Linked DNA regions of Homo sapiens: all the other regions are reported to be linked to region 3. The links are microRNA targets in miRTarBase. Many come from high-throughput screens and were not tested one by one. Region 3 holds a microRNA gene; each other region holds the end of a gene's coding sequence.

Evidence for each region. The annotated mature microRNA hsa-miR-3677-5p reads CAGUGGCCAGAGCCCUGCAGUG and lies in region 3 at 5,668-5,689, opposite strand. An mRNA with a match to its seed (bases 2 to 7 or 8) in the 3' UTR can be bound and repressed. Matches are read on the target gene's strand: a 7mer-m8 pairs with bases 2 to 8, a 7mer-A1 pairs with bases 2 to 7 and ends in A, and an 8mer does both.
Region 1: the mRNA of DUSP7 is a reported target of hsa-miR-3677-5p. Seed matches in the 3' UTR shown: 7mer-A1 at 2,203-2,209 and 7mer-m8 at 2,429-2,435.
Region 2: miRTarBase lists FAM222B as a target of hsa-miR-3677-5p. The part of its 3' UTR that is shown has no 7-base or 8-base seed match.

What each region holds. Positions count from the first base shown.
Region 1 is chr3:52,044,262-52,052,020 of GRCh38, reverse strand. It overlaps DUSP7 (dual specificity phosphatase 7), which reads left to right. Exons shown (of 3, transcript NM_001947.4): 3 at 899-3,102. The coding sequence ends at 1,206. LOC124906238 (a long non-coding RNA gene) reads right to left here and starts at 5,792. Exons shown (of 2, transcript XR_007095908.1): 1 at 4,699-5,792; 2 at 3,063-4,202. RefSeq lists an enhancer at 4,502-5,701.
Region 2 is chr17:28,751,883-28,759,641 of GRCh38, reverse strand. FAM222B (family with sequence similarity 222 member B) reads left to right here. Exons shown (of 3, transcript NM_001077498.3): 3 at 1-3,662. The coding sequence ends at 1,372. Among named protein-coding and RNA genes, the nearest start is that of TRAF4, 12 kb to the right of the region's middle.
Region 3 is chr16:2,268,645-2,276,403 of GRCh38, reverse strand. MIR3677 (microRNA 3677) reads right to left here and starts at 5,691; the gene lies at 5,632-5,691. It overlaps ABCA3 (ATP binding cassette subfamily A member 3), which reads left to right. Exons shown (of 33, transcript NM_001089.3): 33 at 1-523. It overlaps MIR3677HG (MIR3677 and MIR940 host gene), which reads right to left and starts at 7,741. Exons shown (of 3, transcript NR_132988.1): 1 at 7,561-7,741; 2 at 4,513-4,728; 3 at 3,332-3,417. It overlaps MIR940 (microRNA 940), which reads right to left and starts at 4,657; the gene lies at 4,564-4,657. It also overlaps MIR4717. RefSeq lists a silencer at 7,631-7,759.

The DNA.
Region 1 (7,759 bases), not on the chromosome of region 3:
GGAGGGTTGGAGGGGAAAGGGGACAGGAAGGTTGGCCCCATCCAGTCAGCTGTGGTAGGAGATATCACTGACACATGGGCCTCCTGAGGAAGGTCTAGCAAGTGGCAGGGGTGGGGCCCATTTAAGCACACCTCACTTATGAAGCCCCATCACAAGTGATAGTGTGGCCATCATCCCAGTCCATGTGTCTTAGGAGCTGGAGTTAAGGCCTTGGGGACTAGCTGGGCAGATGGCAGAGCGAAATGCAGGGCCAGGCCACCTACTTCCTTCCAGAGGAGCCTCCCTCAGGCCACTTTCCTAGAAGACTCTCAGGGACAACCCATGGGAGCGGCTCCAAGAGAACCAGCCCAGCCCCCAGTCCCAGGTCATGGCCTGGCAGCAGCGGGCGCTGAGCTAGGAGGAGCTTCTGTGTGGCCTTGGGCTTGCCACTTTGTCTCTGTGTCTGTTTCCTCGTTGATAAAATGGGCTTACTGGCCATGGTGCAGATGACCCAAGAGGATGCAGGTGACACCCGTGACAGCAGTCGTTAACGCACATGGCAGTGGTAGGACTAGCCATGATCACAGGCATTACAGTAGTTCATGTTTGTTGACCCCTCACTTGGCTCAGGTCCTTATGAGACCACTGTGCATAAATAGGCCCATTTTATAGATGAGGAAACAGACACGGGTGTCCAGTGCCTTGGGGCTAAAGTGTGCAGAGCCCTCTCCACAGCAGTGCTGTTGACCTCTATTCCAAGTTGCTGCCCTACCCACACTGGGCTTGGCCAGGTCCCTCAGGGGTCGGGCAAGACCAGCCAGCCACCATGCTGCCCTCTGTGCCCCAGCCCCACCTGCCCACCCATGTGGGAAGGCTCCTTGAAGGAGGCACCTCCCTGACCCATGCCAATGTGTTTCAGACGAAGCCCGCTCCAAGAAGTGTGGTGTCCTGGTGCACTGCCTGGCAGGCATCAGCCGCTCAGTGACGGTCACTGTGGCCTATCTGATGCAGAAGATGAACCTGTCACTCAACGACGCCTACGACTTTGTCAAGAGGAAAAAGTCCAACATCTCGCCCAACTTCAACTTCATGGGGCAGCTGCTGGACTTTGAGCGGACGCTGGGGCTAAGCAGCCCGTGCGACAACCACGCGTCGAGTGAGCAGCTCTACTTTTCCACGCCCACCAACCACAACCTGTTCCCACTCAATACGCTGGAGTCCACGTGAGGCCTGGTGCACGGGGGGCATGGCACCAGGCCCCTGCTCGGCTCTCCACAGGGCTAGGTGGGAGAGCCCAAGCCCGCCACCTCTGGCCTGAGGAACCCCCAGATGTCACCTGTGCCCAGAGGCCCAGGCTGATCGGTGTCGGAGCGCCCCTCACCATCCTTGGGGGCAGGGCCCGCAGGCAAGGTCTCCCACTGCAGGGCTTGCTGGAGAGGCCTCGGCTCTTGGACACGTGGCTTTGGGCGTCCACCAGGGCCTCATCCTGTCCAGGACGCTCCTTTCTGCTGACAGCCCAGCCAGTTTGGCTGTTTTTTAAAGACACATCCACGGACCTGAGTTTACTTTTTACTTTTGGCAGGTAAATCCAAGCTCCCTGGAGCACAAAGAGTGTTTGAGCTCTTCTTGATTTTTCTTTTTTTTTTTTTTTTTTAACAAAAAGTGTTATTTTCAGGCTACATGCAACAGTGGATTGTATAACCCAGTATTTCATCCCTTTCCTGATCCTGCAAGAGAGAGAAATGTTCAGTTTTGTTTTTCGTTCAATTTCAAAAAGCAAGTATCGTGTTTGTTTTTGTTTTTGTTTTTTAATGGAAAAGACAGACGCCATGTTGACCTTGACCAAATGCGTTTTGCACATGTGTGAAGCCTCTGTTTCCTCAGCGGGCCCTTCTTGAAGGGGTGGCTTACTGCTCTTCAGGTATTGGGACCCCCAGTCGTGCCGCCTCCCACCCTTGGCCCAGTCTGACTTAGCTCTGCATTCGCCTGTGATGACTGCTGCAAGTTGTGATTGGTGGGCTGGATGGTGGTCTTTGCATTTTCTGCCGTCTCATCCATCCCTCTGGTGGTCCCTGCAGACCTCCCTGAGGCAGAAGGTGGGGACCCTGGGGCCCTGCCGCTGTCCCCCAGGAGGTGGGCCGCAGGGGGCTGCCAGGCAGTAGCATTAGCCCTCTGGGGTCAGCCCCTAAGAAGGCCTGGGCTCTGAGCCCTTTTATATACTTAGCCACTACTTCTGTCTGTCTGTCTGTCTCTCTCTCTTCCTCTCCCTCTCTCTCTTTCTCTCTCTCCCTCTCTCTCTCTTTCTTTCTCTCTCCCCCCCTCCCTCTCTCTTCCTTTCCTCTCTCTTGTTGTAACTGGGAGTGGAGGCCCAGTGGCTGGGGAGACATTAGGTGGTGGGGCCCAGCCCGACCTCCAGGTTCTTCCTTCTCCCTAGCTGTTGCTTTGGTCTGGCCACTCCCAGCCCCCTTGTCCCCTTGGAAGCTTGCCCTGCCCTCATCTTGCCCATGCCTTCTACTGCCAGGAGACTTGCACCCATTTCAACCCTAGGGCGGGGGCAAGTGGGGCAAGGATGGACCAGCAGAAGGGGGGTAAGGCTCTGTTCACTTCCCCCTGCCTCCACAGAACGAAGCCACGGATTCCGTTATCTTCCTCCAGTTTTGTTCCTTCTCCAGCCTCAGTTCCACCAGGTGTCAGGACTGCATGGGGGCCTGGGGCAGGCAGAGGAGTCAGGCCAGGGTCCCTGACGGAGCAGCACTCAGCATGTGAGTGAGGCCACAGAAAAACTCTGCCCCACTGCTTCTTACCTCACGGGGGTGGCTTTCAGGGATTCTTTAGCGCAGCAGATTAAAATCTTGCCACAGTCGAGAAATTGACAACAAGCTTCCATGCTGTACATGGTTCTCTTTTTCTCTCTTTTATTTTTAAAAAGAAAACCCAGAAAGATGTACCAGATTTGTGTAAATGAGGGTATGCCAGAAGGTGGCCAGTTTTGCTTTATGATCTTATGAAGGAAGATTTGTGACCCTACGTATATATATACACACACATACATATATATATATATCCCGAACCAACAACGGGACTTTGTTTATATTGCAAATAAATATTATTTTTTCTTTAAAATGAGTCGTGTCCGATAAGGGCTTGGGGCCTGGGAAGGAGGGGAAGGAGTGCTGTCGACAGGCATCCTAGTGCCTGCTCTGTGTGAGGCACTGGCCTGGTTCTGCTTGGGGTCTGCTGGCCACTTAGACTAATCAAGGTGCCCCGCAGATGGGAGGGAGCAGCCACAGTTTCTGGATGAAGCTGGGGCAGGTGGCATTTCCCCAGCCCTTAGGCACTGGCAGGCAGAGGCATCAGGGCTTTCTCTGTGGGCTTCTGCTGAAATCAAGGCTTGGAGAGGTTGTATATACCAAGTTGACACAACTGAGTCCTGACTCGCCCTTCATTGTCTGAGGCTGTCTGCTTAGGCATTGCCCAGATTGCAGCCCCCAGGACCCTAACTCTTTCTCTTGCTGCCGTGTGGGTGAGAGGGGAATGTGCATTTAACCCTGCCCCTGCAGGTCCTGAGATATCAGTGGGTAGTGACAGGTCAGCCCTTCTTTGCTTCTTAAGGGCTGGGTGGCCTTGGACAGGTCCCTTAGGCCGATTGCACCTGGTTCCTGAGTGCTTTTCAGCTTTGTGGCATGAAGAGCACATTATTGGCCTGGGCTCACAGGGAGGAATCAGCCGTGCTCAGGCGTGTACAAGGAAGGGTGGGCATGGGCCTCTGTCAAGGCTCCCCTGGGGGTGGGGGTCTAAGCGAGGCCCTGGGCTAGAGCAGGGAGGAGGTCTGGAGAAGGATGGGGGCCACAGTCTGGGGAAGTGAGGCCCCAGTGGACAACAAGCCCCGAGTTACAGATCAGGAAATGGAGGCTCCAGAGTGGCTTAGGTCTCCCTTGCCTCTGGCTGGATCAGGTGAGCCCCAGTCAAGGACTTAAGAGGCCTGGAAGCTGACTCAGTTTCCCCATTTCTGACATTCCCCAGCTCTATCCCTTCAGCAAACTGTGTGATCAGCACTGAGCTGGATCCAGGTGGAAGGTAGGTAGGTAGGGCCGAGAGGGTGAGGGCGGCTCAGCCTGGGACTTGCTCTGTTGGGGTGCCCAAGGCTCTCCTTCTCTTCTCTCCCTCATCTCTGCTCTTCAGTTAGTCTGCACCAGAACGCAGTCACAACCATCATGCGCAGCCTGTGGAGAGGGGTAGAGGGCAGGTTCTGCCCACTGTGGGGCCTGGGTGCAAATCTCAGCTGTGTGACTGCAGTCCCTCAGTTCTACCCCCTAACACTCCCATGTGGAGCGTGGAAGAATCCTGCCGCTCAGCCGGCAGGCCTCTGTGGGTAGGAGGGGGCTTCTTGCTGCATCCTCGACAAGGGGGCGGTGCTGCTGTTGCTCCTGGGCTCCCTCAGGGCCCTGTTCCTTCTGTGCCAGGGGCAGGCAAAGGGGGTGGGGGCCTGAGCAGGCAGAGACTGGGCCTTTGTTCCCTCCTGCTGCCCTCGCCCAGGCCTGGGGAAGCCCGCGGGTGCTGGGCTGGGGGCTGGGCCCTCGACAAACCGAGTAAGTGCCTGGCAGTGCCAGCGTGCCCAAGCACAGGACGGGGTGGGGGTGGGAGTGGCAGCCGCCTCCTGAGCCGGCTCTTCAGACGGAGGACTGGGACTGCCTGAAGAGGGCCAGCCCCGCCACTTACCCCTGTGCACTCTGGGGCCAGTGGTCTCTCTGACCGTCTGTGTCCTCCTTACCTGTAGAAATTCCTACCTCAGCACTGGGCCTGGCTAAGGTTCCCTGCTGGGGGACAGAGGGCCAGGTCATGGCTGAGAGGCTGGGGCCCTGGGTCCTTGCTCTGTGACCTTGGGCCGGGCCACGCTTACTGGACTGTGGTCCCCCACCCCTGGGTTTTGGGCTCCCATCTCATGGCCCCGTGTCCTGAGCTCCTCCTATCCCACCCCGTTTCTGCCATGCTCTCCCCAGCGGGCCCTGCTTGCTTCAGGCCATCTGTGGCTGAGGCCCTCAGCGCAGCCGTCCTGAGCTCTTGGACACTTGGCTCTCTGGGGGTGCACCTGCTTTATCTCTGTCCCCAGTCCTGTTGCTCTCTTGAGCCTGTTTGCCTCCTTGGTCCCTGTTTCTGCCTCCGTTTCAGCCTGGACCCCGGGGAGCTGGTCCACTCCTTAGCCGCTTAGTGTTCCCATGGGAGGAGGATCCAAGACACTTACTCACTTGCACATTCATCCAGCAGCCATTTCCTGTGCCGGCTGGGCAGTCCCAGGGAGGGAACATGCCCGAGGGAAGCTCGGTGATGTCACACTGGGTGGCAGGATAATGGGGCCCTCAACTTGTCCTCTGATAAATGAATCAAGTGCAACATGAGGACTGACTAAGGCTGGATACGAGGAAGCACTTGGAGTGCTGTGGAGCGATGACCTTGAAGGGGTTCCGACAAGACCGCAGGAGAGATGAACATTTCCCTAGGGTGGTCCCGCTCTGAGCCTGGGGGCAGAGGGAGCCCTCAGGAGAGGGCCCTGCTCTGCCTGCCACCCCCACAGGGCCCCTCCCCAGAGGAAAGTCATTCCTCATGAATGGACCAGGGTGGGGGTAGGTGGCAAGCCTGCACTGGAGCCTGCCCCTCCCTGCTACTGCCCATGTGCTGTGCACCTGGGCCAACAGCATGACTGCACTGTACCTCCCTCTGTGTCAGAATGGATGTGTCTGGGACACCAACACCTACCCCCAGATCCTTGGCAGAAGCCAGAGGGCCTGATATGGGAGCCAGCTTTCTCTGTAGGGAGCACAGTAGCATGTTAACCTCTGGGTGCCCCGATGGAGGGTGTTCAGGTCCTGATCCTTGACATCTTTTCCCCTGCTTTCTTTGGGCCCCACCAGGACACAGTGCTCTCACCTGACTCCTGAGACCCAGCCTACCTGAGAGCCCTGGGAAGGCTCGGGAATCACTCTGCTTCCCAGCCCTGTGCTGATGGGGAAGGTGAGGTTTGCAGAGGGGTGTCATAGAGTGAGGCAAGGTAGAAGCTGGGCCCCCCACCCTGCTGCCCTGAGGCTTTTCACTAGGCCCTGGCTCTGTGAGGGACCAGACACACACACACACACACACACACACACACACACACACACACACACACACACACACACACACACACACACAGCTTTGCCATCCTCTGACTAGACAAGCCCATGCAGGTCTCATAGCAATGGAGGAGCCGCCTGCCTGTGACTGTAGCCTCCTCTCATCAGGGTGTGTCCTGGGTGAAGTCATCCCTTTCCAGGCATGGTCATTAAAGACTATCATTAGCAACTCTTAGAGGCCTTGGCCCCATTGTCTCTGGCTGGGTCAGATGAGCCCCCACAGGTGACCGTGACACAGACTCCGGCCCCTTGCTAGAACCTCTCTTTGCCCAGGCAGCCAGCCCCCTTCCCAGGGCTGTCCTATCGCACACTTCCAGGGGCCATTGTCTGCCGTGTAGCTTCCGTGCATGTGTGGGGTCTCCACACGCCTCCCTCCATGCCTTCAACTCCTCCTCTGGCCTCAGGGCTGCAGGCAGAGGAGAAGCTGCAGTGCCTTTCCACAGGGCGTCATGGGCCAGGGAGGAGCCTCTTTAGGGGACAGGGGAGCCCCTAGAGGGCATCAGGCACAGGGCTGATGGGGTCTGGCTGTCACAATGAAGATCTAGTTGGTGAGTGAGAGCGGCCTGAAAGGCAAGCGCGCAGGCCAGGGGACAGGGAGGAGGCCAGGACAGTAGTTGAGGGTGGGTCAGGAGTGCTGGAGAGGGTGTGGGAAGGACACATCTGCAGACCAGCAGGACTTGGGCCCCATGGGAATCAAGACCCATGGTGTGAACAGAGGGTCCCAGCTTGTCTGATGCCACATCCACAGCCTGAAAGCCAGCCGCTGTGCCTCGCAGAAGGATTAAGCTTAGCCCGGGCATGCGTGGGCCCACGGGACCCCGAGCCCCCACTCACCTCCCCTGAGGGAAGCTTGCCTCACCCTCATTGTGCCACCACATGCTAGGCGCCCAGGGAGAGCCAAGGGGCCCCAAGATCCTTAAGCGTCCTGGAAGTCCCCCAGGACAGCACAGCCCTGACGGCCCATCTCAGAGCCTCCGTTTCCTCATCTGTACAGTGGGGATAAGAATTGCCAATTCAAGAGGAGAGAGCAGGATGAAGGGCCTGTTGCCCACCTAGACCTCTGGAACAGGAGCCCAGGTGAGTTCATTTAGCTGTGGCATCCCCACCGCTGCTGAGGGGCACCTCTCCGGCCCAACTATTGTCAATTTGCTGTGTGATCTCGGACAAGCCTCCTCCCCCGTTCAGTTCTCCAATTCCCTGTTTCCACTGATGAGAGATAGAATAATGACCCTGAGGTATCTGGCCCTCAGATTCAGCACCACACCCCTTTGAGCCTGCCTCTGGTCCCCCAATTCGCATGCCCCAAACCTAGTTCTCTCCTCACCCCACAGAACCTAGCATGGGGGCTTGGGATGAGGCTCCCGGTGGAGGAACTACAGGAGCAAAGGCCCAGCTCACACTTCTCCCCAGACCACTGGCACCAGGCCCCTGCAGCCCTATTCCCTAGCCGCTGGGAGAGAGGCAGGCTGGATACCACTGTCCCTCCCCGGTTGCTGGGACTCAGGTGGTCTCACCAGCACCTCTGGGCAGGGAGTCTGGGTGTGGTTCTTCTGCATCTCAGATTCTTTCCCTGGGCCTCATGCCCAGAAGTGGCATTTCTGGGACAAACACCT
Region 2 (7,759 bases), not on the chromosome of region 3:
AGTGCCAGCCAAAAGCATACTCAAGGACTTTGACGGCACCCGAGCCCGGTTGCTCCCTGAGGCCATCATGAACCCCCCAGTGGCACCCTATGCTACTGTGGCACCCAGCACTTTAGCCCACCCCCAGGCCCAGGCTCTGGCCCGCCAGCAGGCCCTGCAGCATGCACAGACCCTGGCCCATGCCCCTCCCCAGACGCTGCAGCACCCTCAGGGTATCCCGCCACCCCAGGCACTGTCCCACCCTCAGAGCCTCCAGCAGCCTCAGGGCCTGGGCCACCCTCAGCCCATGGCCCAAACCCAGGGCTTGGTCCACCCTCAGGCCCTGGCTCACCAGGGTCTCCAGCACCCCCACAATCCCTTGCTGCATGGAGGCCGGAAGATGCCAGACTCAGATGCCCCCCCGAATGTGACCGTGTCTACCTCAACTATCCCCCTTTCAATGGCGGCCACTCTGCAGCACAGCCAGCCTCCGGACCTGAGTAGCATCGTGCACCAGATCAACCAGTTTTGCCAGACGAGGGCAGGCATCAGCACTACCTCAGTGTGTGAGGGCCAGATCGCCAACCCCAGCCCCATTAGTCGCAGTCTGCTCATCAATGCAAGCACCCGGGTGTCGACCCACAGCGTCCCCACACCAATGCCTTCATGTGTGGTCAATCCCATGGAGCACACCCACGCGGCCACCGCCGCGTTGCCTGCTGCAGGTCCTGTCAACCTGCCCACAGGCATCTCTCGCGTCCCCACTGGCTACCCTAGCGACCTCAAGCCAGTCACCTGGAACCAGCACCAGCTGGCCCACCTACAGCAGATGTGCAGCGAGGCTAGTGGGACGCCAGCCCCTGGCCTGACAGGCAAGCATGCGGCAGGACGCGAGTTGGCAGGGCCTGGCTTTGTGGGCAAGGCCCCTGCCTACCCGCAGGAACTCTGCCTGGCGCAGTCCTTCCATCTGAAGCCACCCCTGGAAAAGCCGACCCCATCCCCACCAGTCAACGGCATGGCAGCCCCATTGGCCTACCCCAATGGTCACTACTTCCAACCCCTGTGGAACAACATTCTGCCCACTCCCAATAGCGACAGCTCGGGGTCTCAGGACCTTGCCATGCCGTTCCACGGTGGGCAGCCCACAGGTGCACCCCTCGACTGTGCGGCAGCTCCCGGGGCCCACTACCGAGCAGGGACCGGGGGCGGTCCAGTGGCAAGCCAGAACAGCTTGATGCAAACAGTGGATTACCTAAGTGGGGATTTCCAACAGGCCTGCTTCCGAGAACAGAGCCTGGCCATGCTGAGCAAGGCCCACCGAGCCCCTGGCAACCGAGCCCCCGATCCCACAGAGAGTCGAAGTCTTCATATTCAGCACCCAGGGTATAGATAGGTAGCCCTGCTGCCCTCCACGTGCAACACATCATACATCACCCTCCTAGGTTTAGTCTTTTAAGTAACTGGATAGTTTCAAAGTTTCACTGCTCCAGTGTGATCATTCTTAGATGTCTAAGAAAGGGAATTTGGTGGGATCTAAGTGGGGACAGAAGGGGTCCTCTCGTCCTCCCCTCCAGCAACTTTTGGTTTTATGTTAGAACCTAACCCTAAGCCCAGGCTTTTCTCTCCACTGACTGCCTGTCAGCTAGTCTCTCCACCTTGGCCATTTCCAGCCAGCTCCCACCCATCTTTTCTTGAATCTCTTCCTGTTTCCCTTAGGACGACTGAGGTGTGGGCTGACGGAATGCCCTAGTTGAGGTAGTATAGGTGCTCAGGCCCCTAATCCAGACCTCTACCTGTTGCTACCCCCCTTCCCCTCCCTCCAGGACTAAGAAGCAAGATTTCCCAGGTGCTCTGAAAGCTAATTACTTACTCATCGAAGGATCTCAAATCAAAGCTGACCCAGTCTTCATATCCTTCAAGTTCCTTTCCATTCCTCAAGGCTTTGTTTTGTGTCTATATTGATCCCACAGCCACTGCACTTGCCCTTGCCACACTTGATCTCAAGGGCATCTTGGAAGTATTTGACCATTTCTTGAGATATGGGGGGAAAAAGTCTTTGTATTGGCATCTTGGTTCCAGACTCCCCTTTCCAAACCTAGAAAAATACAGTGACCTTTGAGCATACCCAAGATCCCTTTCTCACTGTTGCCTGTCCCCTAACTCACCTCCCCACAGCCCCTATCCTTTCCCCCTCAACAAAAACAAAATCTACCTTACTTGAGGAATTAGGTAGGTAAGGAATGATCACATTGGAGTTTGGGATTAAAAACACCAAAAAAAAAAAAATGCATTTGGTTCTCTCTACACTGGCTAAGAATATTGCTCTACACTGTAAGTTTTAAACGTTACGTTTCTGTATGAATGTAGTGTGGGTTTGAGTAGCATTGTGTGTGAGTGGCCCCACAGGTACATTCACCCTCTAGTGCAGCCCCTCAGTTTAATGAAGGAAAAAAAAACAAACACAAAGCCTTAAGCTCTTTGAGTACTTCCTTTACCAAATGAGCATGGTTCTAACACCTGGAGCTGGGCCTACATTGGAAACAAGCCCCTCCTGCCCTCTGTCCATTCTTAGAGCATACCTTCATCCACTCCATGCTCAGCACGTCTCATCCCAAGCGACAATTAGTTGGCTAGAAACACTTTTCTGTAATTTTAAACTTAGACTGTTTTGTTACAAATTTTTGCACCATTCTGTTAAAGATGCAGAATTGGGCTTTTTTATTTTTTACAGATGAAATAAGCCCTTACCTTTCCTCTTGTCTCTGGGGAATGTCAGCTGATGGTTCTTATTTAAGGTTTTGCATTTTGTTCACTATCCACTACTGTTCGTTAGCCAGAAATTCTCTAGTGATCTGAAGCAATGTGACTGAAGACCAGTTTTAAGTTATGTGTTGGCAAGTTGCCTTATATTTAAAAGGAAAAAGAAAAAAAAAAAAGCCTGATTGTGTTATGCCAAATGATAGCAACATGAAGTCCTAATTTATTGTTCCCAATTGTTTTCCTGCCGTCTGTGAACACTGGTACCTCCCTGTCCTGATCCCCCAGGAGCACCTGTAGCTTCTGACTCAATGCCTTCTCCGAAGGTGTTGGCCGCCATCTCACCCAGGGCCCTCTTCCAGTTCCTGCTTTTCTGAGTCAGATTTAAAGAGCACCACTGTCTTCCCCCTACCCCTTGCTTGATCTCCAAAGCAGATATTCTTGCTGTATTTTTTTTTCCTCCCCAATACCTCTCCCTGAAAGGTGAGCTGCTATTTTAGGAAACTGGACCAGACACCAACTTGGGGGCTTTAAGTCAAACAACCTCAAACCCATCTCTTCCTGTGTAGGGGTGCAAGCCTCTGAAGCTCTCACTCCCACCCTTAGTCTGCATGGAAAATGTACTGTGATCCCCCTGCCCCCAACTGCCCTCGCCTTTGGTGTGAGATGTTCCTTCTTTCGGAGTTCAGCCTGAGTCCCTCTCCCCTCTGCCAGCCAACCCCCAGCCAGCAATAAGGGTCCAAGCCAGGGCCTCCTCTCCACACTCCCTGTCTCCATCCTACACTACCCTAGGGAATACCTGGATTCCCCATTCTATCCACATACTGTAGCATTCATTCTCCATCTCTCTCACCTCACCTGTGGTGGTTTATGGGTGTGATGGGGTTTTTAAGATTATTATAAACCAGTAAAAATAAGAAAACCTCGCTTTCTGACCTTGTTCTATTCGTTTAGTGCTGTGAATGTTTGAGGTAACTTTTTCTTAACAGTTTCTAACATACCTCACTTCATAGGAGTAATTCCTAATTTTTAAAAGGGGTACCCCTGTAATATGCATCCCACCCAGAAGCCGTCTCCAAATCCATTATTTAAGGCCAGGTGCTATGGTGATTGTAGACAGTTCTTCAATGAAACCCTGGACACAGGGTACCCGGCTGACAGGCCCTCTCCCTGGGCAGGGCTGCTGTGGGCTTACTGTGAAGTTTGAGGATAAGTGTGGTTTGCTGTCCCTCACTGGAGGCCCAAAAGGTCCTGCCACTTGCATTCCAAGGGCCATAAGTCATTGAGAAATGGCGATCTGGTTGTTTTGTTTTGTTTGAGGCGAAGTCTTGCTCTGTCGCCCAGGCTGGAGTCCAGTGGCACGATCTCGGCTCACTGCAACCTCCACTTCCCAGGTTCAAAGGATTCTCCTGTCTCAGCCTCCTGAGTAGCTGGGATTACAGGTGCCTGCCACCACGCTCAGCTAATTTTTTGTATTATTAGTAGAGATGGGGTTTCACCATGTTGGCCAGGCTGGTCTCGAACTCCCGACCTCAAGTGATACACCTGCCTCGGCCTCCCAAAGTGCTGAGATTACAGGCGTGAACCACCATGCCCAGCCAAGAAATGGGGATCTGGTTTGCTAATAACCCAACCTAAAACTTCAAACCTGCCTTCTTCCACTTCCAACACTTTGGAAATTCTGAGGGCCTCTGACAGAGGTGAAGGTGATAGGCACTGTTATCTGCAATGTAACTGGCTCCTCTTGGTGATTACAGTTTTCTTATGTTGAATTTTGGATAACTTTATTTTTTTGTCTGCAGAGGAAAAAAAAAAAACACTAAGTGATTGCAGCCAGGCACAGTGGCTCATGCCTGTAATCCCAGCACTTTGGGAGGCCAAAGCAGGTGGATCATCTGAGGTCAGGAGTTCAAGACCAACCTGACAAACACGGGGAAACCCAGTCTCTACTAACAATACAAAAATTAGCTGGGCGTGGTACCACGCGCCTGTAATTCCAGCTACTCAGGAGGGTGAGACAGGAGAATCGCTTGAACCTGGGAGGCGGAGGTTGCAGTGAGCCGAGATTATGCCACTGCACTCCAGCCTGGGCGACAGTGAGACTCCCGTCTCAGGAAAAAAAAAAAAAAAATGAATTAAGTTACCCTCCTCTTCTGTTGAGCTTGGGTTTGAGCTAAGATGTAATGGAAGGAAAAGTTGATTCTGGCTGGGTGCGGTGGCTCATGCCTGTAATCCTAGCTCTGGGTGGCTGAAGTGGATTGCTTGTGCCCAGGGGTGAGACCCTGTGTCTTCAAAAATTGTAAAAAGTTGGGTGTGTAGTCCGGGTACAGTGGCTCACGCCTGTAATCCCAGCACTTTGGGAGGCCGAGGCAGGCGGATCACCTGAGGTCGGGAGTTCAAGACCGGCCTGACCAACATGGAGAAACCTTGTCTCTATTAAAAATACAAAATTAGCTGGGCATGGTGGCGCATGCCTGTAATCCCAGCTACTCGGGAGGCTGAGGCAGGAGAGTTGCTTGAACCTCGGAGGCGGAGGTTGTGGTGAGCCGAGATCGCGCCATTGCACTCCAGCCTGGGCAACGAGTGAAACTCAGTCTCAAAAAAAAAAAAAAAAAAAAACAAAAGTTGGGTGTGATGGCACATACCTGTAGTCCCAGCTGCTTGGGAGGCTGAAGTGGTAGGATTCCTCAAGCCCGAGAGTTTACGGCTGCAGTGCCAGTATCTGGGTGACAGGAGTGAGACCCCCATCTCTAAATGAAAAAACTATTTTTTTAAAAAAAGAAAACTGAGGCCGGGTGTGGTGGCTCACACCTGTAATCCCAGCACTTTGGGAGGCTGAGGCCAGCTGGATCACCTAAGGTCAGGAGTTCGAGACCAGCCTGGCCAACATGGTGAAAACCCGTCTCTACTAAAAATACAAAAATTAGCCAGGCATGGCAGCGGGCGCCTGTAGTCCCAGCTACTCAGGAGGCTGAGGCACGAGAATCACTTGAACCTGGGAGGCAGAGGTTGCAGTGAGCCAAGATCGCGCCACTGCACTCCAGCCTGGATGACGAGAAAAAACTCCGTAAAAAAAAAAAAGAGAAAAGAAAATTGAGGCTTGGCACAGTGGCTCACCTCTGTAATCCCAGCACTTTGGGAAGTGAAGGCCAGCCAGATCACCTAAGGTCAGGAGTTTGAGACCAGCCTGGCCAACATGGTGAAATCCCGTCTCTACTAAAGATACAAAAATTAGCCAGGCATGGTGGCAGGGGCCTGTAATCCCAGCTACTCGGGAGGCTGAGGCAGGAGAATCGCTTGTGAACCCGGGAGGCAGAGGTTGCGGTGAGCTGAAATCGTGCCACTGCACTCCAGCCTGGGCAAAAAGAGTGAGACTCTGTCTCAAAAAAAAGATTATATATATATGTGTGTATATATATATATAATTATAATATCTATATGTATACATATAATATCTATATATATAATTATATAATATATATATAGATTATATATATACACATATAGATTCCACAAGATGGGGGATTCAGGGAGGGTAGAATCAGACCCTTGGCGGCAAGAGTCCGCAGGTGGCTTCCTGAATGCTGACGGAGCTAAAGCACCAGCCTTCTTTCTTGAGCACACCCTTTTCTGTAGGGTGCTTTTGTTTTTTTATTTTTTTTCAGACGGAGTCTCACTCTGTCGCCCAGGCTGGAGTGCAGTGGCGCAATCTAGGCTCACTGCAGGCTCCACCTCCTGGGTTCACACCATTCTCCTGCCTCAGCCTCCTGAGTAGCTGGGACTACAGGCGCCCGCCGCCATGCCTGGCTAATTTTTGTATTTTTAGTAGAGATGGGGTTTCACCATGTTAGCCAGGATGGGGGTGCTTTTTTTTCCTTGAGATAGTCTCTTGCTCTGTCGTTCAGGCGGGCAGTGGCACGATCTTAGCTCACTGCAACCTCCACCTCCCGGGTTCAAGTGATTCTCCTGCCTCAGCCCCATGAGAAGCTGGGACTACAGGTGTGCGCCACCATGCCCAGGTAATTTTTGTATTTTTAGTAGAGACGGGGTTTCGCCATGTTGGTCAGGCTGGTCTTGAACTCCTGATCTTGTGATCCGCTCGCCTCAACCTCCCAAAGTGCTGGGATTACAGGCGTGAGCCACTGTGCCTGGCCGAGGGTGTTCTTTTGTGAAAGTGTTTTGACTCCTTTATGCCTCATGCCACCCCTGTGAAAGGAAGCTGTCTTCTGCCTGTGTCAGATAAGATCTGCAGTCGGCCCAAAAGCGGAGCTAGACATTAGTAAAGTACAGCGCTTCCTCCAGAGTGAATGATTCCTGGGCTGAGGTAGATCCTTGGGGAGTGCAGCTCACACTTTTATTGCAGAACATGGCCTGAATTCTGCAAGTTATGACTAGCACTGAATAAGGTCCAGGTGTGCAAGGCTTGCAGAGTATGGGGTTAACAGCCCCATTGTTTGCATGCAACTCTAGGAGGCACCATCTAGACTATGTGAATGTGACCCCCGGAAGCATGCAGTGACAGTGTATTTATTTATTTAGAGACGGAGTCTCACTATGTTTCCCAGGCTGGAGTTCAGCTCACTGCAACCTCCACCTCCCAGGTTCAAGTGATTCTTCTGCCTGGGCCTCCCAAGTAGCTGGGACTACAGGTGTGCACCACCATGCCCAACTAATTTTTTTTTTTTTTTTTTGAGATGGAGTTTTGCTCATTGTTGCCCAGGCTGGAGTGCAGTGGTGCGATCTCAGCTCACTGCAGACTCTACCTCCCAGGTTCAAGCAATACTCCTGTCTCAGCCTCCCAAGTAGGTGTGATTATAGGCACCTGCCACCACGCCCAGCTAATTTTTGTATTTTTAGTAGAGACTTTTGTTTCACCATGTTGGCCAGGCTGGTGTTGAACTCCTGACCTCAGGTAATCCGCCCTCCTTAGCCTCCCAAAGTGTTGCGATTACAGGTGTGAGCCACTGTGCCCGGCTCCTTATATTTTTTTGTAGATACGGGGTGGCTCCCTTTGTTGCCCAGG
Region 3 (7,759 bases):
GTCTCTGGGTGGAGAGCTGACCCAGGAAGGGCTGCAGCTGAGCTGGGGGTTGAATTTCTCCAGGCACTCCCTGGAGAGAGGACCCAGTGACTTGTCCAAGTTTACACACGACACTAATCTCCCCTGGGGAGGAAGCGGGAAGCCAGCCAGGTTGAACTGTAGCGAGGCCCCCAGGCCGCCAGGAATGGACCATGCAGATCACTGTCAGTGGAGGGAAGCTGCTGACTGTGATTAGGTGCTGGGGTCTTAGCGTCCAGCGCAGCCCGGGGGCATCCTGGAGGCTCTGCTCCTTAGGGCATGGTAGTCACCGCGAAGCCGGGCACCGTCCCACAGCATCTCCTAGAAGCAGCCGGCACAGGAGGGAAGGTGGCCAGGCTCGAAGCAGTCTCTGTTTCCAGCACTGCACCCTCAGGAAGTCGCCCGCCCCAGGACACGCAGGGACCACCCTAAGGGCTGGGTGGCTGTCTCAAGGACACATTGAATACGTTGTGACCATCCAGAAAATAAATGCTGAGGGGACACAGTCACAGTCTGTGGGTCACACGCGCGAGCGGTCACAGGGCTCAATCACTCGCCCACAATCTAGACATGAGGCTCTCCTTTCACATTTCAATCACACAAACGTGGGACGTTGCTTTTCCCAGAAGGGAGCACACGCAGAGAATACACTGAGGTGAAGGAACAGGCCCATAACACAAAGGAAAAAGCCGGCTAGATCAACGCCCGGTGACAGGCTCTTAGTCTAAAGACAAGAGCAGGTGGGGCTGTGTGGGAAGCACAGGTCTGGTGGGAGAGAAGCTGCTGGCATCAGGGTCACCCGTGGGCATTTGCCATTTCCCAGAAATAACTCCTCATCAGCTCCCTTTTTAGTTATTTATGGAGTCTTGCTTTGTTGCCCAGGCTGGAGTGCAGTGGCGCAATCTTGGCTCACTGCAACTTCTGCCTCCCGGGTTCAAGCCATTCTCCTGCCTCTGCCTCCCGAGTAGCTGGGACAACAGGCACGCGCCACCACACCCAGCTAATTTTTGTGTTTTTAGTAGAGACGGGGTTTCACCATCTTGGTCAGCCTGGTCTCGAACTCCTGACCTGAAGTGATCCACCCACCTCAGACTCCCAAAGTACTGGGATTACAGCCATAAGCCACCGTGCCTGGCCCCTTTTTATGCACTGTTTTGTGTTTTGTCTTTTGGAGACAGGATCTTGCTCTGCTGCCCAGCGTGGAGTGCAGTGGTGGTATCACAGCTCACTGCAGCCTCAAACACCTGGGCTCATGCAATCCTCCCACCCCAGCCTCCGGAGTGGCTGGGACTAAGGGCATGCGCCACCATGCATGGCTAAATTTTATTTTTAGTATAGACGAGGTCTCATGTTGGCCAGGCTGCTGCCAAACCCCTGACCTCAAGTGATCCACCTGCCTTGGCCTCCCAAAGTGCTGGGATCACAGGCGTGAGCCACCATGCCCGGCGAATGCACTATTATTTCTTATGGTTTTCTAAACCCGATTTGAACTTCTGCATTTTACATTCCCTTAGAATTCAGAGTTTTAGAAAAGACTTGTTTTCATCACTTTGGCTCATTTGGGACAATTTCAAGTCTGTGTTTTTATCAGTCTCTGGAAATTTATGAAAGCTGCAAATCGTCTCCAGTAGCTCTTTTATTCCCTTTAAACTTCTGCCATCTAGTTCCATGTTATAAAAAATATAACGTGTTTGGGCAGTGTTTAGGCCACAGCCACCCATGTGTAGCCACCCCTACACATGGGTGGCTGTGGCCTAAACACTGCCCACGAGAAAAGTTCTGAAGTGGGCCCTTCTGGCCCCACAGCCTGTCCGCAGGGGCTGTGGCCTCTAGGTCGGGCCTGGGGCTAGGAAGAGGGAAAGGTCAGTGCACGAGGCCACCCAGCTCCATGTCCATGCCCATGGCCCTTCTGCAGGGCATCCTCAGACTTGTTTTCAAGCCCATGTGTTAGAGATTTAGGAATGTGTCATTTTTCTCCTGTGACACCCTAAAAGAGGGTTGGGGAGAGCGTATAGGACTGAGGGCACAGCCCGCATGAGGCACACACGTGTGAGGCCAGCGTACACAGGACACGCACAGGAGATACCATCCTTCCCGGTAGCACGCTGCCAGCACCAGCAGGGGTCTTTAAGTAAGGACTGGCACAAGTAGAATGCCTTCTTAGGAAAATGATCCGCAGCTCAGGAGGCTGCTGCGTGGGGACCGGGAGGGGCAGGTGCATTCAGGGCGTCTGTGGCAGGGGCCCAGGGCTGCACCCAAGCCTGGAGCTTAGATGACCCCAGGAGCAGCAGGAAGGGCCCATCTGGCATCCCAGGGAAATCCTCAAGGCCTCTGGAAACTCAGTGCTGGAGCTGGGTCACCAGGGGTGCCCTAAGGAGCCTGGGACTGAAGCCTCAGGACCCTGCCCTGGCCGATTTTTGTCTGAGCTGTGGCAGTTCCCAGCCCACGGGAGGGCAGGGGAAAAGAGCCTTGGGCCCAGGGATAGGAGTGACCGGCCTATCCACGCTCCACCCTAGACCACGGAGGGGGGCCACACATTCTCTACGGACACTGTCCCCAAACAACTGTGGCATCTGACAGAGCCAACTCCTGCCCTGCTCCCAGTTCACCTTAGACCTGGGAAACGAGGTTTTGACTTCACTGCTCTGCATGGCCTGGTGCAGGGCTCCCGTGAGCAGACGGCCCATGGGCCACGAGCCAGGTATGTGGAAGAGCCTGTGCCTTCTGTCCTCCAGGCCGGCCCAGTCCAACGGCGTGGCTCAACTGAAACCACACCCAGAACTCGGAGAGGGGAAGACCTCGCGGTGGGGCGGGCCCAGGCCAAGCCCCTCCACTGCCATCACAGGTTTACAGCGGAGCAGAGGGGCAGGCCGGATACAGGCAGCCCAGGCCACAGGTCAGGGGACCCACACCAGGCCACAGGAACAGGCTTGCTGAGGGTATCAGAAAACCCCAGGTCACAGTGGTTTGAAAAAGAAGTTTATTTCTCAGCCATGTAGGCAGGAGGAGGCAGTCCAGCACTCGGTCACCTGAGGTCTCAGGGAGGCAGGCTCCATCTGCTGCCCCGTCATCCTGGTTCACGCCTCCCTCCTCATGGTCACCTCTGTGTTCAAGGAAGTGCTTGGCCGGGCATGGTGGCTCACGCCTGTAATCCCAGCACTTTGGGAGGCCGAGGCAGGCGGATCATGAAGTCGAAAAATCAAGACCATCCTGGCTAACACGGTGAAACCCCGTCTCTACTAAAAATACAAAAAAATTAGCCGGGTGTGGTGGCGGGCACCTGTAGTCCCAGCTACTCAGGAGGCTGAGGCAAGAGAATGGCGTGAACCGGGGAGGCGGAGCTTGCAGTGAGCCGAGATCACGCCATTGCACTCCATCTGGACTACAGTGAGACTCCATCTAAAAAAAAAAAAAAAAAGGAAGTGCTCAAGTTCAGGCCGGGGTAGGGTGTGTGCAGTGGCCTCCGTCAAGTGTGTGTCACCCCCAGGCAGCTCCCTGCTGCGCCTGGACCCAACTGTGCCCTTGGCTCACTCCATCTTGCTGGGTTTCCCATCTCTGTCTTACTGGCTGCTTTCAGAGACCAGGCCCAGAGTCCCCAGGACTCAGGTGACCTTGGCTACCCTGGAATCCTGGACTAAAGATCTGCAATAGAAATGTGTCCAGCAGGGAATGTAATGTGTCCAGCAGGGAACCATCCTGTTTGCTTTGCTTTTCTGAGTTCCTACAACCAACCGGCCAGGGCGCACTGTGGGGCACAGGGATGCAGGCCCTGGAGTATGGCCACTTCTGCCTGGGGGCGTCTGGGGGGTTTCCTGAGTGAGGTGGGGTCTCACCAGCTCCAGGAGACACCACTGCCATGCACAAGGTAGGTGTGGGGGTGGAGGATCACCTCCGTGAGGACCCAGACCCCACCCACTGTGGCTGTGGTGGAGACTGCAGGTCTGTCTCAAGGCCCCAGGCCTGACACCTGCAAGAACAGAACCTGGGGGTGACGGAGAGGGGATTCCACCAGGCCAGCCCGGGGCTTGAACCCCAGCCAGGGCAGCTGCTGTCTGCTGCCCCACCAGGTAACGCACCGACCCAGCTGCTGTTCAGCTCCCCCTCTGGGCCAGCACCATGCTCATGGCATAGGCCGGCTGGGCCCTCTGAGACCCCCACTCCCACACAGACTGGTCTGCATGGAGGCTGGTGCAGCCTGTGCCGTACAGACCCTGCCCGGCTGCACTACTGGCCAGAGCCCCCTGCAGACAGGCGGCTCGAGGGGAGCTCCACCATGCAGGAGATGGCCCAGCACTGCAGTCACTTAGGCTGCTCATCCCTCCCCGAACTGACATGTCCCTCCCTCCAGATGCCCCCCACCGCCGAACCCCAGCATGCTGGGCATGCTCTGGCCATCCCACACAGGGATCAGGGTGGGAGGGCTGGAGGCTGCCTGTCAGGGGCAAGGCCTCCTCCAGGAGGTAGGACGGGGTGGTGCAGGTGGGGTCCCCTCACCTGATGGGCCCTCGAGGCCAGGCTGTAGGCAGGCAGGAGGGGGCTGAAGCAGTGGGGTCAGGCCCGGGGAGCGGGGGCCCTGCCTTCCTTCCTCAACACACGGGGCTGCCCAGGCCCCGCTCCTGGGGCCGGGCCCACACCTCACAGACACTGGTGTTGGATGCTTCGGCTTGAAGGAGCTCCAAATGGACTAGCCGCAGCTGCCCCTGGGTCCACCTGGCCCAGGCAATACCACAGAATCACCAAGGCTCATCTAGCCATGGGCCCAAACCCAAGGCCCTAAGAGGCACCCCGGGTGCCTCAGTCACAGTCCCAGGCAGCTCAGGTCCCAGGCGGCTCACAGTCACCATCCTTGACTTCATGGTAGCAGAAATGGAGTGCTTTGAGCTTGTGATGAGCACAGGCTCCCAACCCTGGGAGAGTTCAGACATGCCCACTGGAGAGGCCCCAGGCCCTGATGATACCCACTCCTCAGACATGCAAACCTGGAGCCAGGGAGGCCCCAATGAACTGCATACTCTCCCAACAGACCAAGCTCACCCCACACCAGCGCAAGGCCCTTTCAGACCCAGCCTGGCCACCCCCATGGACCTGGCCAGCACCTCCCCCAGCCCCACCCTCTCCAGACAGGCACCAGGCTGTGGTGACCCGCCTCTCAGCAGCTCCTCCTCTGATGCCTCCCCACGGTCCAGTCGTTACCCCCTCGTCCACCTGACTGGGCTGCGCATGGCCTCAGTGCAGAGCCAGGTTTTAGTAGTGGGTAAAAGGGCTCCCTTGCTGTGCTTTACCAGAGAATGCAACACCCCCAAAGCTCCTTCATGACCCACTGTGACCTGCAGCACCACCAAGCCCATCCTCATCCCTGTGTCCCAGGCCACCAGCCTCTGAGGGCAGGCACTGCAGGAGCCACCGGGCCACAGAGGATGGAGGCAGGGAGGACATTCTGCCTTCATGAGGGCATGCTCTCAAAGACAGAGCCGCCCCAAACTGTCAGCAGGTGACCCTCCGCTCTGGGAAGGCAAGGGGAGGAGCTCAGGGCCGTGGCCAGAGCCCACGAGAAGCCCGTGCCCAGCTCAGCAGGTGACCCTCCGCTCTGGGAAGGTAAGGGGAGGAGCTCAGGGCCGTGGCCAGAGCCCACGAGAAGCCCATGCCCAGCACTGCAGGGCTCTGGCCACTGCCTAATGCCCTCCATGAAGCCCTGCCTGCCCTTCCAGCAAACCAGGGCCCCTGAGGCTCCAGAAACCCCAGCTCCACTGCCCTCAGCCTCCATGGCCTTAGCAGCCTGGCTCTGGGGCTGAGCTCCTGGAAGGGCAGGGTGGGGGTAGGCTCCTGAGTTTTATTTTCTCACATTTCTTCCAGACATGCTTCTGCTGATCCTCAAAATGGCAAAAGCCAGGATGCTCAATTCTCAAAGCTCAACAGCTGATGGCACATTTGATAACAAAAATCAGTAATATTTAGAAACAAATTTGATTAAATTCGTAAGTGCCTGAATAAATCATACTTGTAGATTTAATATAAAATGTGTGAAAGCTTATTCGCAGGCCAAATGACATTACTGCAGAGCATTAAAAACCAGCAGGGGGAGGGCTGTCGGCCCAGCTGGTGCTGCGTCACGCCCACCCATGTCATGTGGGGTCACCAGGCTGCCCCTGCCCACCAGGTGTCAGTGGGGCCCTGGGCATGGGCTCTAGGTTTGGGGCCTTTTAGCACCTCTGACCACTGGACTCCAATGCCACCTCAGAGAATTCCGCCTATGCCTGCCTGGACCACCGAGGCTGCCCCCTCCCCTAGCGCCGACTCTGGGGCCCCTTCAGCAGGGGGGCGGCCCCTCTGTTCCACTTAATCTTCCATGCCTGGGCACAGCAGGTGTGACAGTAATGCAGAGACTCTAACTCACTTTACATGTCATCAAACCCAAATCCAACGGGTACCCAAACCAGACTGATGGGCCTGCCAGCCTCCACCCACAGGAACACACTGGTGACTTACTGCAGCAGACTCGGGAGGTAGCTCCTCCTCCTAGCTGCCTTTGTCCCCAACTCCTTGGACATCCCTTAGCCCAGGGTGAAGGGTCAAGGGCACACTTGACACCCTCGGACAGGGCCAGAGGGAGTGGGTCTCGGCAGGAAGTCACCAAGAGCTGGCTTCCCACACAGGGAAGAGGGCAGTGATGGCAGACCACATCCCCACTATCTATCCATCCATTCACCCACCCACCCACTCCGGGTCACCAAGCTGCACCCTGTCCTTTGCTCTGACATCTAAAGTCTCCAAGTCATGCTGGTTCTCTCCTCCCAAAGATCGGCTTGGATCTGTTCCCTTCTCCCTTCCTTGCTGCCACGAAGCTGTTCAGACAAAGTCTGAAGCTCAGCGCACCGTCAATCCCTCCACAAATAACCACAGGGCAACGACTGCCTGACAGGCACAGCAGAGAACAAAACCCGCCCTCGGCCGGGGGCGGTGGCTCACGCCTGTAATCCCAGCACTTTGGGACGCCCAGGAGCGAGCACTTTGGGAGGCCAAGGCGAACCTAGGAGCGGATCACGAGGTCAGGAGTTCTCGACCAGTCTGGCCAACATAGTGAAACCCTGTCTCTACCAGAAAAATACAAAAAAAATTAGCCGGGTGTGGTAGTGTGCGCCTGTAATCCCAGCTACTCGGGAGGCTGAGGCAGGAGAATCGCTTGAACCCGGGAGGCGGAGGTTGCAGTGAGCCGAGATCGCGCCGCTGCACTCCAGCCTGGGCAACAGTGCGAGACTCTGTCAAAAAAAAAAAAAAATCCGCCCCGTCAGTGTGGGGAGTTGACGCGGAGCCTCCTGCCTGCACCCCTACAGCGTCACCCCCTCCTCTGTCCCTGCCAGAGGCGCCACCTCTGGACTCTCCCAGGGTCGGACCCTGGTCGACAGTGCTCCCTGCCCGGACCCTGCACCGGCCGATGGATGAAGCCTCGGCGCTGCGCCGTTCACACGCTCCGTGCCGCTGCCGCGAAGCTCGCGCGGGCCTGCGAGCCGGTACCCGGGCCTCCCTTCCCTGCTTCCAGCGAACCTCGGCGCCTGCTGTTCCCCCGCCGGGCGCGCCCTTCCATTCGGGTCTCAGCGGCAGTGTCACCTCCCCGGAGAGGCCCGCCGTTGCACCCCATCTCCCACTCTCAAGCTCGTCGCTCTTCCTGCCCGCACAGCCCGCCTGCCGCGCCCACCCGGTGGAGGTCCGCCTGCCGGGAGGCCGCGTCCACGGGAACACCCCA